Homo sapiens: one gene and its partners. The protein of the gene in region 4 interacts with the protein of the main gene of each other region in a pairwise test. Each region holds a gene or a part of one and is shown on either strand. Other genes may lie near its edges.

Region 1 (3,720 bases), 2.4 Mb from region 4:
ACAGTCCACTAGCCAGAAAGAAGTTAAGACTTCTGGAATCATAGCATCATATGGAATGGTCATTTACTGCACAAAATACATAGAAACCTTGTATTTATTCATTTAACAAATATGTGTGTATAGACCATTCATTCATTCACTTATTCATGCCAGGTACCATGCTGGACCTTGTGAAATCATTGGTAAGTTAAATGGATGATGTTCTTGTTCTCAGGGAACTTACAGTCTTGTGGAAAGGCAGACAGTAAACACATCCTATAATGATAAGTTATGATAAATGCTCTGAAGGAAAAGTATAGGATACTCTGAGAGGTTTTAGGAAACAAAATGTGAAAAAACATAAAAAAGTGGAGGCAGTGGTGTCCTGTAACACAACAGCATCTCGAAGCATGAGTTTCTTTGATAAATAGAATGATCCTTTTTCCTAAAGCTCTCTCCTCTTGTCAGCAGGGCTATTCGGAGTCACCAGACCTGGAGTTTGAGTATGCTGACACAGACAAGTGGGCTGCAGAGCTCTCGGGTAACGCACAGACCTTTGTGTTATTTGGGGGTGGTTTTTTCCTTATTGGTCTTTAATAAAATTAATAATGAATATCATTTAGGGCTTCATTGCTTTCCCTAGTTCTATCAAATATATATATATATATATATATATATATATATATATATATATGTATAAAACATGTTATTTGATTCAAGCCTTGTGTATCTTATAACTTTGTGTTGTCCTTTACTTTTATGAAGCTGGCTAGAGCCCAGTCCCATTGTGAGACAGTGATGTTCCTTGGCTATCCACTGTGACCCTGACAGTGGTCTCTCCTCCAGCAATGGGTCATGAGGGATGCCTGCATCTGTGCCCATCTGCTGCTGCCACTGCCACTCTCATGTAATGCGAGGTCGGTGTGAGCTGCTTCTCCAGCCTCTACAATACACATCCTGCTCAAGAGGTAGCAGCCATTTGAGAGATGCATCCCAGGTGGCCGTCAGCCCTGGCATGGCATGGTGGGATGGATGCACATCGGACTGGAAGTGTCCAGATGGCATTCTGGCACTCTGGTTGTCTCTATTGTGCACATCAGAGCACTAAGATCCCCTTCATAATTAGAGAGCTTATTCCAGGAGTCACTATGACTCAGGGGCAGAGTTGAGAGTGGAAGCAAATGCCTTGCCTTCTCTGCACTTGTGAGACCTGGTGTGCAATGCAGACATGGAACCAATGGTGACGAGACTTTGTTCTGACAGAGCTTTACAGCTACACGGAAGGGCCAGAATTCCTGATGAATCGAAAATGCTTTGAGGAGGACTTCCGGATCCATGGTGAGATGATTTCCCACACTTCTTGCTTCCTTTGCCCTGCATAACGAGAGCTGCAGGTTTCTTTTAGGCATCTGAATGACCTGAGTCATCCTGGAACAGCCTGAGAAGCCTGCTGAACCCTGATGGTTCAAAGCCAGATACATGTAGAGTGGGCTTGTGGCACATCGGTGGGGGCTTTTCAGAATGTGCATATTAGGGGAGAAAAAAAAATCATGTGATTAAAATTGCACCCAAAATACCAGCGTTTCAGTTTGGAATCAAATTCATAGAGCAGCAGTATGATCTTACCACTTACATAGGGTGTAACTTATCTTTCTGGTCCTATGGCAGTCCTGAATTTGGTGAGTTAACATGGGTCCATGCCATTGTGAGGATTTTTCTAGGCTCAGGTGTAACTGGTTTCTTGCCCTGCAGTGACAGACAAGAAGTGGACTGAGCTGGATACCAACCAGCACCGGACCCATGCCATGAGGCTCCTGGATGGCTTGGAAGTCACTGCCAGGGAGAAGAGACTCAAGGTGGCTCGAGCAATTCTCTATGTTGCTCAAGGTATTGAGTGGACCTCCCCAGGGTTCCCTGGCACCTCTGCCCACTCAGATGCAGGGAGGGGCTCAGTGAGTTGAACCCTGCATTGCAGGCACGTTTGGGGAGTGCAGCTCGGAGGCAGAGGTGCAGTCCTGGATGCGCTACAACATCTTTCTCCTCCTGGAGGTGGGCACGTTCAATGCTTTGGTGGAGCTTCTGAACATGGAAATAGAGTGAGCATTTTTGAGAGGCTGAGTAGGGAAGGGGAGGCTGGGATGGGAAGGGGGACAGAGCTTGCAGAACTAACTGGCTTTGAGAGGGTTAAATGGGGCAGAAGTTCTGGTCCCAGGCTGTGTTCTGACCACCTGGGTTGAATAACGGAGTTGGTCACTTACACCTTGAAGATTAATGGAGACTAATGACAGGTCCCTGCAGCTCCCTGATGCCAGAGTTTTTACACCAGACAGTGCAGGCCCTGCCCAGGCCTGGGGTGCTCCTCAGAAGGAGACTCTTCACTTTGAGCTCTCTTTTGAACCTGCAGACACTGCTGTGTTCGCCCTGCAGTTTCCGCCTTGGCAGGAGGCCAGGCACAAGACTGACATATGGGCTCAACCAGTGCCTGGCCTTGCCTGTGTCACCTTTGTCCAGTGGACAGGTCAGCTGCTGCTCATCTAAGGATAACACCATCAATGATAAAGCTAAGACAGCTCATTGAGTGCCTGTGTGTCCCGGGCATTGTTCTCAGAATATTACATGTGCTAATTCATGTTAAGGATATAGGTACTACTGTCATCCCCATTTTACAGATGAGGAAACTAAGGCGCAGTTAGAGCCAGGATTCAAACCGTGGCAGTCCAGTGCATGGCTGGGTTTTTTGTTTTTGTTTTTGTGTTTTTTTTGTTTTTGTTTTTGTTTTTGAGAGAGAGTCTTGTTCTGTTGCCCAGGCTGGAGTGATATGGCGTGAACTTGGCTCATTGCAACCTCCACCTCCCGGCTTCAAGCTATTCTCCTGCCTCAGCCTTCTGAGTAGCTGGGTTTACAGGTGCCTGCCACCACACCCAGCTAATTTTTGTATTTTTAGTAGAGATGGGGTTTCGCCATGTTGGCCAGGCTGGTCTCAAACTCTTGACCTCAGGTGATCCACCCGCCTCGGCCTCCCGAAGTACTGGGATTACAGGCATGAGCCACCATGCCCAGCCATGGTCTGGTTTCTTAACCACCGTGTCCTGTGGCCTCTTGTGCAGTCCAAGCACGTATCACAGCATTTTGTTTCCCCATTGGTCAGTACTTGTCAGGGACATCACTTATCTTCCTTCTTGGAGGAAGATGCTGACTCTCAAAATCTCCTGCAGCAACAGTGCCGCCTGCAGCAGTGCTGTGAGGAAGCCTGCCATCTCCCTGGCTGACAGCACAGACCTCAGGTGAGGCGAGCAGCAAGCCTGGGCTCCTGAGCGTTAGTCAGAGATGAGATCAGAGCAGGGTGTGGGAGGCTGTCTGTGGGTGTCATTGCTGTGTGTGCTTCTGTACACATCATCTGCATGTGTGATGGGCTCAGTGTGAATGATTAGTAGGAACTGCTGAGGGCTCGTCCTAGGTGGGACTCTGGGTTGAGACTCCCAAAGGCAATCCAGGGTCAAGTGACTTACTAGAGCCACAGCTAAGTGTGGCCTCCTACTCACACTGTTACTCAGGACCTGGTCGTGGGGTATTTTGTATTTGGATGAAACACTTGATGGTGTTCCCTGGACTCCCACCTTCTTGTGTACACAGCTTGATGCTCATCTTCATTGGGTTAGACCTGACAGCTTCCTAATGTTTCATGGCTGCCCAGGAGCTCACAGCAACTGCTGACCACCAAGATCACCCCTCAGTTTTTGA
Region 2 (3,720 bases), on a different chromosome or scaffold from region 4:
CTCAGCAACTCAGTAGGCTGAGGCAGGAGAATCGCTCGAACCTGGGAGGTGGAGGTTTTACTGAGCAGAGATCACCACTGCATTCCAGTCTGGGCTGGTGACAGAGTGAGACCCTGTCTCCAAAAAAAAAAAAAAAAAAAAAGTACCAGTCAGGTGTACATGTTCTCTTAAAACAGTTTTTAGATATTACATAAATTCAGAGGTTGGGGGAATGGAGATTTGAGTTTCTTCTTAGAATTTATCAGTAATTTGTTTTTCCTCTCTTCCTACAATAGCGGCCCTGTTCTGTCATTAGCTATTAGTTCTAATGGAGAACAGTGTTTTAGTGGTGGTATTGATGCAACCATCCAGTGGTGGAATATGCCGAGTCCCAGTGTAGATCCATATGATACATATGGTAAGTAAAATGATCAAAATGTATTTTTTTTAAGTGAATGGAGCTGACAAAAGTAAATACCTCAAATATGATTACAAGGTTATTTAAACCTATATTAGTCACCTCATTTAGTTCTTCCATTTGCTAATAAATTGCTTTATTAAAGAGAAAAATTAGGAAATGTCATGCCATGGGTATTTAAGCCTATGAATTGATACTTTCTCTGTTGTTTAAAAAACTATATTAATTAAAATGTTAATTTAGGTAGTAGTTACAAAAAGAAGGAGGAAACAAAATGTAATCTAAGTAACAAAATTTTGAACTTAAGAAATAGTTTATATATTTTAAAAATATTAAGCAAAAGACAATGGAACCAACATCAGGGGTATAAATCATTAAAACTTTTTGGAGCCAAAAATTTTTTTTGTTATTCTTAGCTCATATCTACAAAAACATTCTTAATTTCAAAATGGAAGAAAAAAAAAAAGAAAGGAAACCTCCTTTGACTTGCAAATGTAGCTTTTAGAAATCTGTTCTACAGAAACACCTACCTGTACCTGTGTTCAAATATATTTGTAAGGGCACTGTTAATAATTATAAAACGTTAAAACAAAATGTTTATGAACTCTTTGTTCTTTTTATTTAACACACACATTGTGCCTACATTAGCTAGGCATTGTGGTAAGCACTATGTCAAGAAATAAGATTTAGACTAATGGAAAGTAGAGACATAAAACAGATAAGCGAAGGGATGGGATCTATGGTTACAAATTGTGATAAATGATAAGAAGATAGAGTACTGTTGAGAGGGCGTAACAGGCAGAACCTTCTCTAGAAGAGTTAGTCAAGAAAGGTCTTTCTAAAATAGTGACATTCAAGCCAAAATCTGAAGGATAAGAGGAAACTTTCAGTAAAGAGTTTTAAGCCAGAAAGTTATCTGATAAATGTAAGGTTTTAAAAAGGTGACTGTGTCTGTTGTGAGAAGAATAAATTGGGGGCGAGAAGAGTGGAAAGAGAAATACCAGTTAGGAGGCTGCTGTCATAAAGTAGTCCAGTAAACTAGGTGACAAACGACATTGCCAAGATTAGAGTGGTGGTAGCACAGCATTTAGAAGTGGTTTTAAGATACGCTGAGGGAGTGTGGTAGAATAGACAGGATTTATTGATAAATTATGTTGAGTAGATAAAGTGATGGGTGAGTGACTCTTAATTTGTATGTGTTTAACTGCTTTACTGAGATAATTTACATATCACAAAATTCACCCTTTTAAAGTATACAGTTCAGGCTGGACACAATGGTCCATGCCTGTAATCCCACCACTTTGGGAGGCCGAAGTGGGTGGATCACTTGAGGCCAGGAGTTCAAGACCAGCCTGGGCAACACAGTGAGACCTCATGTCTGCCAAAAATTTAAAGATTTGCCAGATGGGGTGTCACATGCCTATAGTCCCAGACACTCGGGAGGCTGAGCTGGGAGGATCACTTGAGTGTGAGAAGTAAAGGCTGTAGTGAGCTATGATGGTGCCAGTGTACTCCAGCCTGGGAAGAGAGTGAGACCCAATCTCTCTCTCTCTCTCTCTTTCTTTTTTGGAAACAGTCTTGCTCTGTCTCCTAGGCTGGAGGGCAGTGGCGTGATCTTGGCTTACTGCAACCTCCGCCTCCCAGGCTGAGGAGCTGGGACCACAGGTGTGAGCCACCACACCGCACTAATTTTTGTATTTTTTGTAGAAATGGTGGCCATGTTGCCCGGGGTGGTCTTAAACTCCTGGGCTCAAGTGATCTGCCTGCCTCAGCCTCCCAAAGTATTGGGATCACAGGCATGAGCCACTATGTGCAGCCACAAGACCCCATCTCTAAAAAAAAATTAAAGTCTACAGTTCAGTAGTTTTTACTATGTTCACAAAGTTGTACAGCCATCATCACTAATTTCAGAACATTCACAAAGTTTTACAGCCATCATCACTAATTTCAGAACATTTCAAACATTCAGAACATTCAGTCCTGTTTGATGTGAGTAACTGAGCATGTGATGGGAGCATTTATTGAAACGAGGACAGAACAGGTGTGAGGAGATTTAAGATGGTGAGTTCAGATTTTAGGCATGTTAAAGGATGACAAATATCAAGTAGGTAATATACAAATAAGGAGCCCAAAGAGATCTCGATTGAAGTTAAAAACATGGACAGTCTTCTCTATACAAATAATACATTAAACTATAAGAATGGGCAATACTGGGGGAGTGTATTGTTTGGTGTAAGAAGAGAAGACAACCTGGGACTAAAGTCCTCAGTAACTCTGACACTGGAAGAGTGGCTAGAGCAAGAGAGCCAAGAAAGGAAACTGAGGAGGTGTGACCCAAGAGACAGAAGGAAGTGCAGGAGAGGGTGCGAAATCATGGAAGCGCACACTAAAGAAGAAACAATTTTGAGAAGAAAGAAGCAGTCTGCACTTTCGAATGTTGCTGAGAGGTCCAATAATATGATATAAAGTTTCCTTTTTATAAGTGACTAGCAGGTCACCCAGGTCTTGGCCAGACAGAGTTTGGACGCTGCAGCTAAGACTGAAGAATGAAGGGACCTCTGGATAATCTTTCATGTCAGACTATATGGATGAAAAGCAATATAATGGGAACAACAACAAAATGTTTTGTATCATCAAAGAAAAGTATTAAATTTGATAGTGTAGGGATCATCATTAGCAAGGATTGTTTTGGTGTGGTAGTGGTATCAGAAACCAAATTGGAGTGATTTGAAGAGTAAACAGGAAGTGAAAAGCATATTTCTATTGCTGGGTGGAAGGGGTGGTAGGATAGGATTAATGAAGATTTTTTGTTGAAGAGATTCTGGAACAAGTTTTTTTTCACTATGGTAATGATTCCAAGGAGGAGAATTTGTGTAGTAGAGAAGCAGTAAACATTACAGCAAGTTAGTGACATCTGGTATTAGCCTTTGATAGGATGGAGGACAGATTCCTTGCTTGTATCTGGAAGCTAGGAGAAGATACCTTTAGACACTAATCATTTATATATTACGCAGCAAGAAGATGGGGGATAAGAAACATGCAGCATTATTTGAATGCTATATTTTCTCAGTGAAATATGAGGCATAGTCATTCATGAGGAAGAGAGGTTGGGAGCTGTGAGAATTGTGGAGATGATAAGAACCATTCATGGAAAGTGGGAGGAGTTTACTAGAAAAACAGGATTGTCAGACAAATTATGCTCAATGTTATCAGCTGTCAAATGTCTGTCAGTTAAGGAACAGATAAATAAAATATGGTATATCCATACAGCAGAATATTATTTGGCACTAAAAATAAATGGAGTACTGATACATGCTCCAACA
Region 3 (3,720 bases), on a different chromosome or scaffold from region 4:
CTCCAGCCTGAGTGACAGAACAAGACTCCGCCTAAAAAAAAAAAAGTAGCAGAAAAGTCATACAAATGAAGAGTAAGGCTCCACAATGAACCTATTATTAGATAGGTAATCTAACCCTCTAGAGGATTCACTTGGTAGCTTTCCGGTTTCATAGTGTACTCTATACTAATAATGCATATTTTTTCAGGAAAACAGATTTGAATGTTCTTATCATCTCAAATAAACTGCTAAGCATATTGCACAAATACGTTTTTTTTTTTTTTTGAGACGGAGTCTTACTCTGTCGCCCAGGCTGGAGTGCAGTGGTGCAATCTCGGCTCACTGCAACCTCCACCTCCCAGGTTCAAGCTATTCTTCTGCCTCAGCCTCCCATGTAGATGGGATTACAGGCATGCATCACCACACCTGGCTAATTTTTGTATTTTTTTAGTAGAGATGGGGTTTCACCATGTTGGCCAGGCTGGTCTTGAACTCCTGGCCTCAAATGATCTGCCCACCTTGGCCTCCAAAGGGCTGGGATTACAGACGTGAGCCACTACATCTGGTCCATATGTATTGTCTGTTAACAATGAGATGCTTGAAGAAATAAAAATCAACTACTTTTACTAAAATATTCGCATAGCATGGAAGAACTACACAAAGAAACCTTTAGCACATTCAACAAGGATTCACAAAATAAAGTATATACAATTTAAAATTTAGCTGCTCAAAAAAGATGTCATCATATAGACAGTAGGGCAAAGTACTCACATAAAAAACTTAGTTCTACTATTACAGTGAATTTGACATCAACCAATAAATGTGTTTATAATCGTAACACAGTCCTTACTAACAATGTAATCAAGGATTTTTTTTTTTTGAGACGGAGTTTTTGAGACGGAGTTTTGCTCGTTACCCAGGCTGGAGTGCAATGGCACGATCTCAGCTCACCGCAACCTCCACCTCCCGGGTTCAAGCGATTCTCCTGCCTCAGCCTCACGAGTAGCACCACGCCCGGCTAATTTTTGTATTTTTAGTAGAGACAGGGTTTCTCCATGTTGGTCAGGCTGGTCTCGAACTCCTGACCTCAGGTGATCTGTCTGCCTTGGCTTCCCAAAGTGCTGGGATTACAGGCGTGAGCCCCTGTGCCTGACCAAGGATTTCTAATTGTATTCTGATAGTAAAAGTTGTTAAGTCATCAAGAATTTAACTGAGAAACTGTTCTAGAAATCCAAATTTGACATCTCAAGTCAGAGAAAAGGAAATGTATACACACAAAAGAAGGGTTACTTATGGGAACATAAATAGTTAAAAGTTAGCTACTTTCCCAGATGTGATAGGAGAAAAAGAATGAATTGACTATACGATCTTTTGGAAAGAAAAGCCTAAGTTTACCTTCGGATATACATAGGGTAATTCAAACAAAAAGTGGAGCCTAACTTCCTTATCACACAGAACTGTCTTGTTCCCCTCTTAGAACACTTACTTTTATAAATCAATGGTTTGCCAGGCTCATTAATTTTTTAGTAGTATTTATGTATATATAAGTACATTTTCAAAATTCTGAAAACAGTATTAAGGAAAAACAGGAACTGTTTCACTTAGGTCTTACCTAGTATAGTAGTGAATCAACTTCACAATTAGTAAGATTATCAACATGAATACAAAAGCAAGACTACAAACTGATTATTTTCTTTTGGAGATGTTTTATGATCAATTCCAAACATACAGTACAGGGAAGGTGAAATGAGTAAGAAAAAAAAATCATATTTAAGTCCCCGTTAACACTAAGCCATATTATTCAAAATGTGTTTCAAAATACTCAGCCAGATCACCAAATCTCAGTCACTACCTTAGTATAAATATTCACTAAGAAAATAGTCAAGCAACAGAAATCCATTGTGAGACACCATCTAGAGAGAACAGCTACACTGCTATATATAATTTATTAACTTAGTAGTTTAGTTTCTCAATATTTAGCAAGTTTAAAAATTACCATTACCATTGGTTTATAGTGCCATTAATATAAATCCATAATTTCAAAGTCATCATTCCTTTCACTGTGAACTAAGACTTCTTAAAAGATAGTTGTGGGTTGGGGAACAGTAATGACTGTAGCTGATGGGCAGTGTTCAAAGCCAAAAAGACTGGCAAGCTTGGAAAGGCATACACTATACATACACACACTCTCAGTATACTACTGTTCCCCTTATTTTTGCTGTACATTCTTGTCTGAAAAGATGGTATAAATTATTCCCTTAAATTTGAAAAAACAATTAAGATGAATACATTTTCATCTTCAAAATTATCCTTCTAAATAAAAAAGTTCCTCATGTTTGTTAAATCTGTTCAAAAGTTGGATTTAAATACTTTCTTCACAACATGTACAATGTTTTCACCCTTACTGCCTCATTACAATCAGTTTGGCAATAAGACCTCCAGTGCTTTATCAAAAATGGCATTCAATAGATTATAAGATTGTTAAATCTGCATTTCAATCATTCTTACCACAATGAATTATAACAAAGTCCAAAAAAATGTATGACTATTCATCAACACCCTTGGAACCTATGAATTATTGCAAATAATCTCACACGTGCATGTAATCCAAACATAAACTTCGTGGGAGAGGGGGTGTAAAATAAATACTATGGTATTTCTTCAATTCTATTTAATGCTGCCTAGCTGGTTAAATGAAAGATTAATATATTACTAACAGGAAGAGTCAAACTATTTTAAGGACTGTTTTCTAAGTAGAACAATTTTGCAAAACAAAGATAAGCAAGAGCCTATGCAAATACATTTTCTTGTAGTGTAATGTAATTGCTAATATGAGGTATAATCTGTAAGCAATTAATACAAATATAAATAGGTATAAGCCACCACTAACTCAGTCTGGTGAAAAGCTTCTCAGCTAAAGTAGTTTGAAGATAAGGTTAAGGGAAATGAGAAGGGGTGGACAGGGCAGGTTTCCAGTGGGAAAATAATTTATGTGCCTTACCATTGTGATCATCCTGTATGTACCAGTCCGTTGTTGCAGAACGGTAAATCCTTTCCAAGTATGTTATACTTTATGTAGCACAGTAAAATTATTTAAGTATTACTAATGCTTCATTTGCATTTGTATTTAGATATACACATAATTATATATGCATATCAAAAACTATAAACAGAATTTTAAAACACTTTTATCTCAATTGGGGAAAGTTAACAGGTAAGACAAAACTACGTACTACAGAATTTTTTAGGATATCTAAACTCAAGGTAAAACCAATAGAAAACATTTCTACCTCTTTAGTAAATGGCTTGTGTGAAACCTCAAGCTCTCCCTCATTTTTTTTACAGATGGGTTTGTCTGATGAGGATTGTGATCCAATGATTGTTTAGCAGCAATTTTACCAAACTGTAAATTCTTTTATTAACAGGCATTATAAACAGATAATACTAATCTTATTTAAAAACCATGAGTGCCACACTGGTGAATATACAGCTTATGAATAACTTAAAAAGTATTTCCCATTTTAAAAGGCAAACCCAGCATACAAAAACCTATACTAAACAAAGAAGCTATAATATGGATACATGATTGATGTGTCTAAAATGATATATACAGTACATAATGTTAATTATATGATCAGTACATTTTTCCTATGATTCCCTTCATGCTTCACTTTCCCCAGAAACTGAATTCTGTACTTCCTCTTCTAAAATTGGTACAATCAGGTTATCCTTGGACATCAA
Region 4 (3,720 bases):
GAGGCTGAGGCAGCAGAATTGCTTGAACCCAGGAGGCAGAGTTTGCAGTGAGCTGAGATTGCACCACTGCGCCCCGGCCTGGGAAACAAAGCGAGACTCTGTCTCAAAAAAAAAAAAAAAAAAAAAGAATAGTTTCTGAGTGTTTGGTTTTGACAAGTTATTGATCTACTTTGGGACTTTTAAAATGGATTTTTAGTTGATTTTGTGTTTTTAAAGTAACACTAAAAATAGGAACGGAGCACAGAACAGCCTTGGGTCCCTAAGTGTAATTATACAGGCTGATTATTGATTGTGGTGGGCATAATACAATCAGTCTTCTCTGGATTTGTATCTTGGCAGAATCACATTTGCAGTGCTACCAGTTGATTTGCAGCGTAGGATTTGAATTCTTGGTTTTTCTGAGTGGAGCAGAATGGTGTTTCTTGGGGGTTTCCATCTAACTGGTGTTTGACGTCATGAAGCAGGAAGCAGAGATATGCTTCTAGAGGAAATTTGTTCAGTCTATGCTGGTTGGCCCCAGGAGTGGCTTATTAGCATGTTTTCTAAAGGCCATTTTAAAATTTCTGAATATTTGGCCGAGCATGGTGGCTCACACCTGTAATCCCAGCACGTTGGGACATTGAGGCAGGCAGATCACCTGAGATCAGGAGTTTGAGACCAGCCTGGCCAACATGGTGAAACCCCTTCTCTACTAAAAATACAAAAACTAGCCAGGCATGGTGATGGTCACCTGTAATCCCAGCTACTCGGGAGCCTGAGGCAGGAGAATGGCTTAAACCCAGGAGGCGGAGGTTGCAGTGAGCCGAGATCACGCCATTGCACTCCAGCCTGGGCAAGAAGAGAGAAACTTCATCTCAAAAAATAAAAAATTAACAAAATTAAAGTTTCTGAATATTTGCTGCTAATAACTAAAATTTAAATCTTCCAAAGTTCAATTTAAAGCCTTTTAGTGAGAAAATGGCTTACTTATCATGAGCCTGGAGAATGTAATTATTTACAACACAGACTTTAAAGGCAAACCTAGGTTCAAATCCCAACTGTGCTACTGTTCACTGTGTGATCCAGGGCAAGAGAAAAATTTTCTGTCTTCACCGTAGCTCAGTCTGTTTCCTCAGCTGTGAGATAGAAATAACTTGGAGAGGTTTCTTTAAGGATTACACGAATAGGCCAGGTGCGGAGGCTCACACCTGTAATCACAGCACTTTTGGAGGCCGAAGCGGGTGGATCGCTTGAGGCCAGGAGCTCGAGACCAGCCTGGCCAACATGGCAAAACTCTGTCTCTACTAAAAATACAAAAATTGCCAGGTGCAGTGGCTCACCTGTAATCCCAGCACTTTGGGAGGCCAAGGCAGGCGGATCACCTAAGGTCAGGAGTTTGAGACCAGCCTGACCAACATGGAGAAACCCCATCTCTACTAAAAATACAAAATTAACAGGGTGTGGTGGCACATGCCTGTAATCCCAGCTACTCCGGAGGCTGAGGCAGGAGAATGGCTTTAACCCGGGAGACGGAGGTTGCAGTGAGCCAAGATCGTGCCATTGCACTCCAGCCTGGGCAACAAGAGCGAAACTCTGTCTCAAAGAAAAAAAAAAATACAAAAATTAACCAGGCATGGTGGCACGTGCCTGTAGTCCCAGCTACTCAGGAAGCTGAGGCATGAGAATTTGCTTGAACCCAGGAGGTGGAGGTTGTAGTGAGCTAAGATTGTGTCACTGCACTCCAGCCTGGGTGACACAGCAAGACTCTGTCACCAAAAAAAAAAAAAAAAAAAAAAAAGGATTACATGAATATACACACATACACGTGCACATATCACAAAGCAAGGTACCCAGGATATAAGAAGCACTTAGTAATTGACAGGTATTATTATTAGCACTTGGCATGTGAGTTAAAGAATTTAATATTCAACATTATTTTACCCCTTCAGCATTTTAGCAAAGGTGAAGACTTAGTGTTGGATTTTAGTTATTGATTGGTTTTGTTTTAAATTTTTCAACATATGACTAAGTCCTGAATAGAGGGAAACAAAGCTTGTTTGCATATGTCATGATCTCAAGCATCTGAGCCAAAGATTTTTAGGAGAGTGTGTATCTGTCTTGGAGTGTGTGTATTTAATAATTTTGTCATGCAGATTATCTTTCTTGAGTTTTTTGGTCCAAGGAAAAAAGAAAGGCAAGGGATTCAGCTAGCCGATGTCTTCTTTCTGAATTGTCAGTTGCTCCACTCTAAGCTCTACTATCTTTAAGTAGCATCATCCTGAATGTCATATAAATGGTTTTGTAGATACTGTGATTACCGTGCAGAGTTATACCTTCTGTGAAATTTAAGGGACTTTTAATGGTAATTTTGATTAAAAGTGGTTTTTACCTTACTTTTGAAGACAGCCTCCCCCACTGTCCTCAAAGTAAGGAGCGATGATAGGAACAACCAAAACTGGAGTGAGAAGAAAACATGGATAGGGGAGTTGAGTAGAGGTGGGGGAACATGAAAGGCGGGAGTTTGTGGGTTGAAGAAAACAAGACTACAAAGAGGCATTGAACTAGATAATGCAATGCGCTGTAATATGGCTCATCTTTGCCAGTTATTTCCAAACTCTGCATTTCAGGTACAGAGCCAGAACTTCCAATCTAAATGTGTCATTTGCTGTTTAATGAATCCTTTCTGACTTCTGGAGCCACAAAGAATATAGTTCTCAATTGTTACTGAATTTAAAGAATGCAACCCTTAATTGTTACTGAGTTTAATAGAAACAAGAAAGGAAAATAGGAAAGCACAGGATGATGGGGTGGGTCTACAGACAAAGACTCCTGACCGTGAGCTTCGGGAGCATCTGCGTAGATTCTTTGTGCAAAACTGCTGGGAAAGGCTAGGCTGAAGCTGAAGTGTGCTCTGGGTCTACTCACCATAGAAAGGTGAGAGCCAGGCCAGGCATGGTGACTCACGCCTGTAATCCCAGCACTTTGGGAGGCTGAGGCAGGTGGATCACCTGAGGCTGGGAGTTCAAGACCAGCCTGACCAACATGGAGAAACCCCGTCTCTACTAAAAATACAAAATTAGCCAGGCATGTTAGCACATGCCTGTAATCCCAGCTACTCGGGAGGCCAAGACAGGAGAATCGTTTGAACCCAGAAGGCGGAGATTGTGGTGAGCCAAGATCGCGCCATTGCACTCCAGGCTGGGCAACAACAGTGAAACTCCATCTCAAAAAAAAGAAAAGTGAGAGCCAGGGAAGGAGAACAGAAAGTAGAAGCAGGGATAAATTGTTTTAACACGAGATAAGAATTGTAAGTTATAATGGAGAGAAGGATGAAAGATAACTGACAGGTAAGTTATAGGAAAAAGAAAGAAGCACAAACTGGGTTTTTTGTTGGAGAATGGGGGCTCCAGGGAGGCCCTCATTACTTGGTTTCTGCTAAATAGTCCTTTCTGTTACAGCAGGTGCTACAGAAGTAACAACAGAACCAATCTAGTTCTTAACTGACTTAATGTTTGAGGGTATAACAATGATCTGGTCTAGCCCTATATATCAGTTTCATCTTGTTGCCTCTTGTCCTTAAATTGAGGGCACAGAATAAATTTCCTTAAAAGGCTCTATCCCCAAAGACTTCTTCACTTCTAAACCCTTAGCCATCACCACACTAACAGACTCTTAACACGTTCCTCTTGGGGGTCAAATAACTTCTCATTCAGCCTGTCTCGTATCACAGTCATCATTTCC

The links.
Region 1: the proteins of CTTNBP2NL (region 4) and STRIP1 interact in binary tests that used the Homo sapiens proteins (3 or more experiments, as listed by UniProt).
Region 2: the proteins of CTTNBP2NL (region 4) and STRN3 interact in binary tests that used the Homo sapiens proteins (3 or more experiments, as listed by UniProt).
Region 3: the proteins of CTTNBP2NL (region 4) and MOB4 interact in binary tests that used the Homo sapiens proteins (3 or more experiments, as listed by UniProt).

The regions. Positions count from the first base shown.
Region 1 is NC_000001.11:110,037,441-110,041,160, forward strand, and holds part of STRIP1 (striatin-interacting protein 1), read left to right. Parts: intron 1-450; coding exon 451-520; intron 521-1,242; coding exon 1,243-1,317; intron 1,318-1,731; coding exon 1,732-1,866; intron 1,867-1,954; coding exon 1,955-2,075; intron 2,076-2,383; exon of another isoform or gene 2,384-2,497; intron 2,498-3,194; coding exon 3,195-3,263; intron 3,264-3,720. UniProt on the Homo sapiens protein: Plays a role in the regulation of cell morphology and cytoskeletal organization. Required in the cortical actin filament dynamics and cell shape. Part of the striatin-interacting phosphatase and kinase (STRIPAK) complexes.
Region 2 is NC_000014.9:30,907,718-30,911,437, reverse strand, and holds part of STRN3 (striatin-3), read left to right. Parts: intron 1-275; coding exon 276-397; intron 398-3,720. UniProt on the Homo sapiens protein: Calmodulin-binding scaffolding protein which is the center of the striatin-interacting phosphatase and kinase (STRIPAK) complexes.
Region 3 is NC_000002.12:197,550,566-197,554,285, reverse strand, and holds the end of MOB4 (MOB-like protein phocein), read right to left. Parts: coding exon 3,640-3,720; 3' UTR 587-3,639; downstream 1-586. Other genes in the region: HSPE1-MOB4 protein, read right to left, coding at 3,640-3,720.
Region 4 is NC_000001.11:112,399,214-112,402,933, forward strand, and holds part of CTTNBP2NL (CTTNBP2 N-terminal-like protein), read left to right. Parts: intron 1-3,720. UniProt on the Homo sapiens protein: Regulates lamellipodial actin dynamics in a CTTN-dependent manner. Associates with core striatin-interacting phosphatase and kinase (STRIPAK) complex to form CTTNBP2NL-STRIPAK complexes.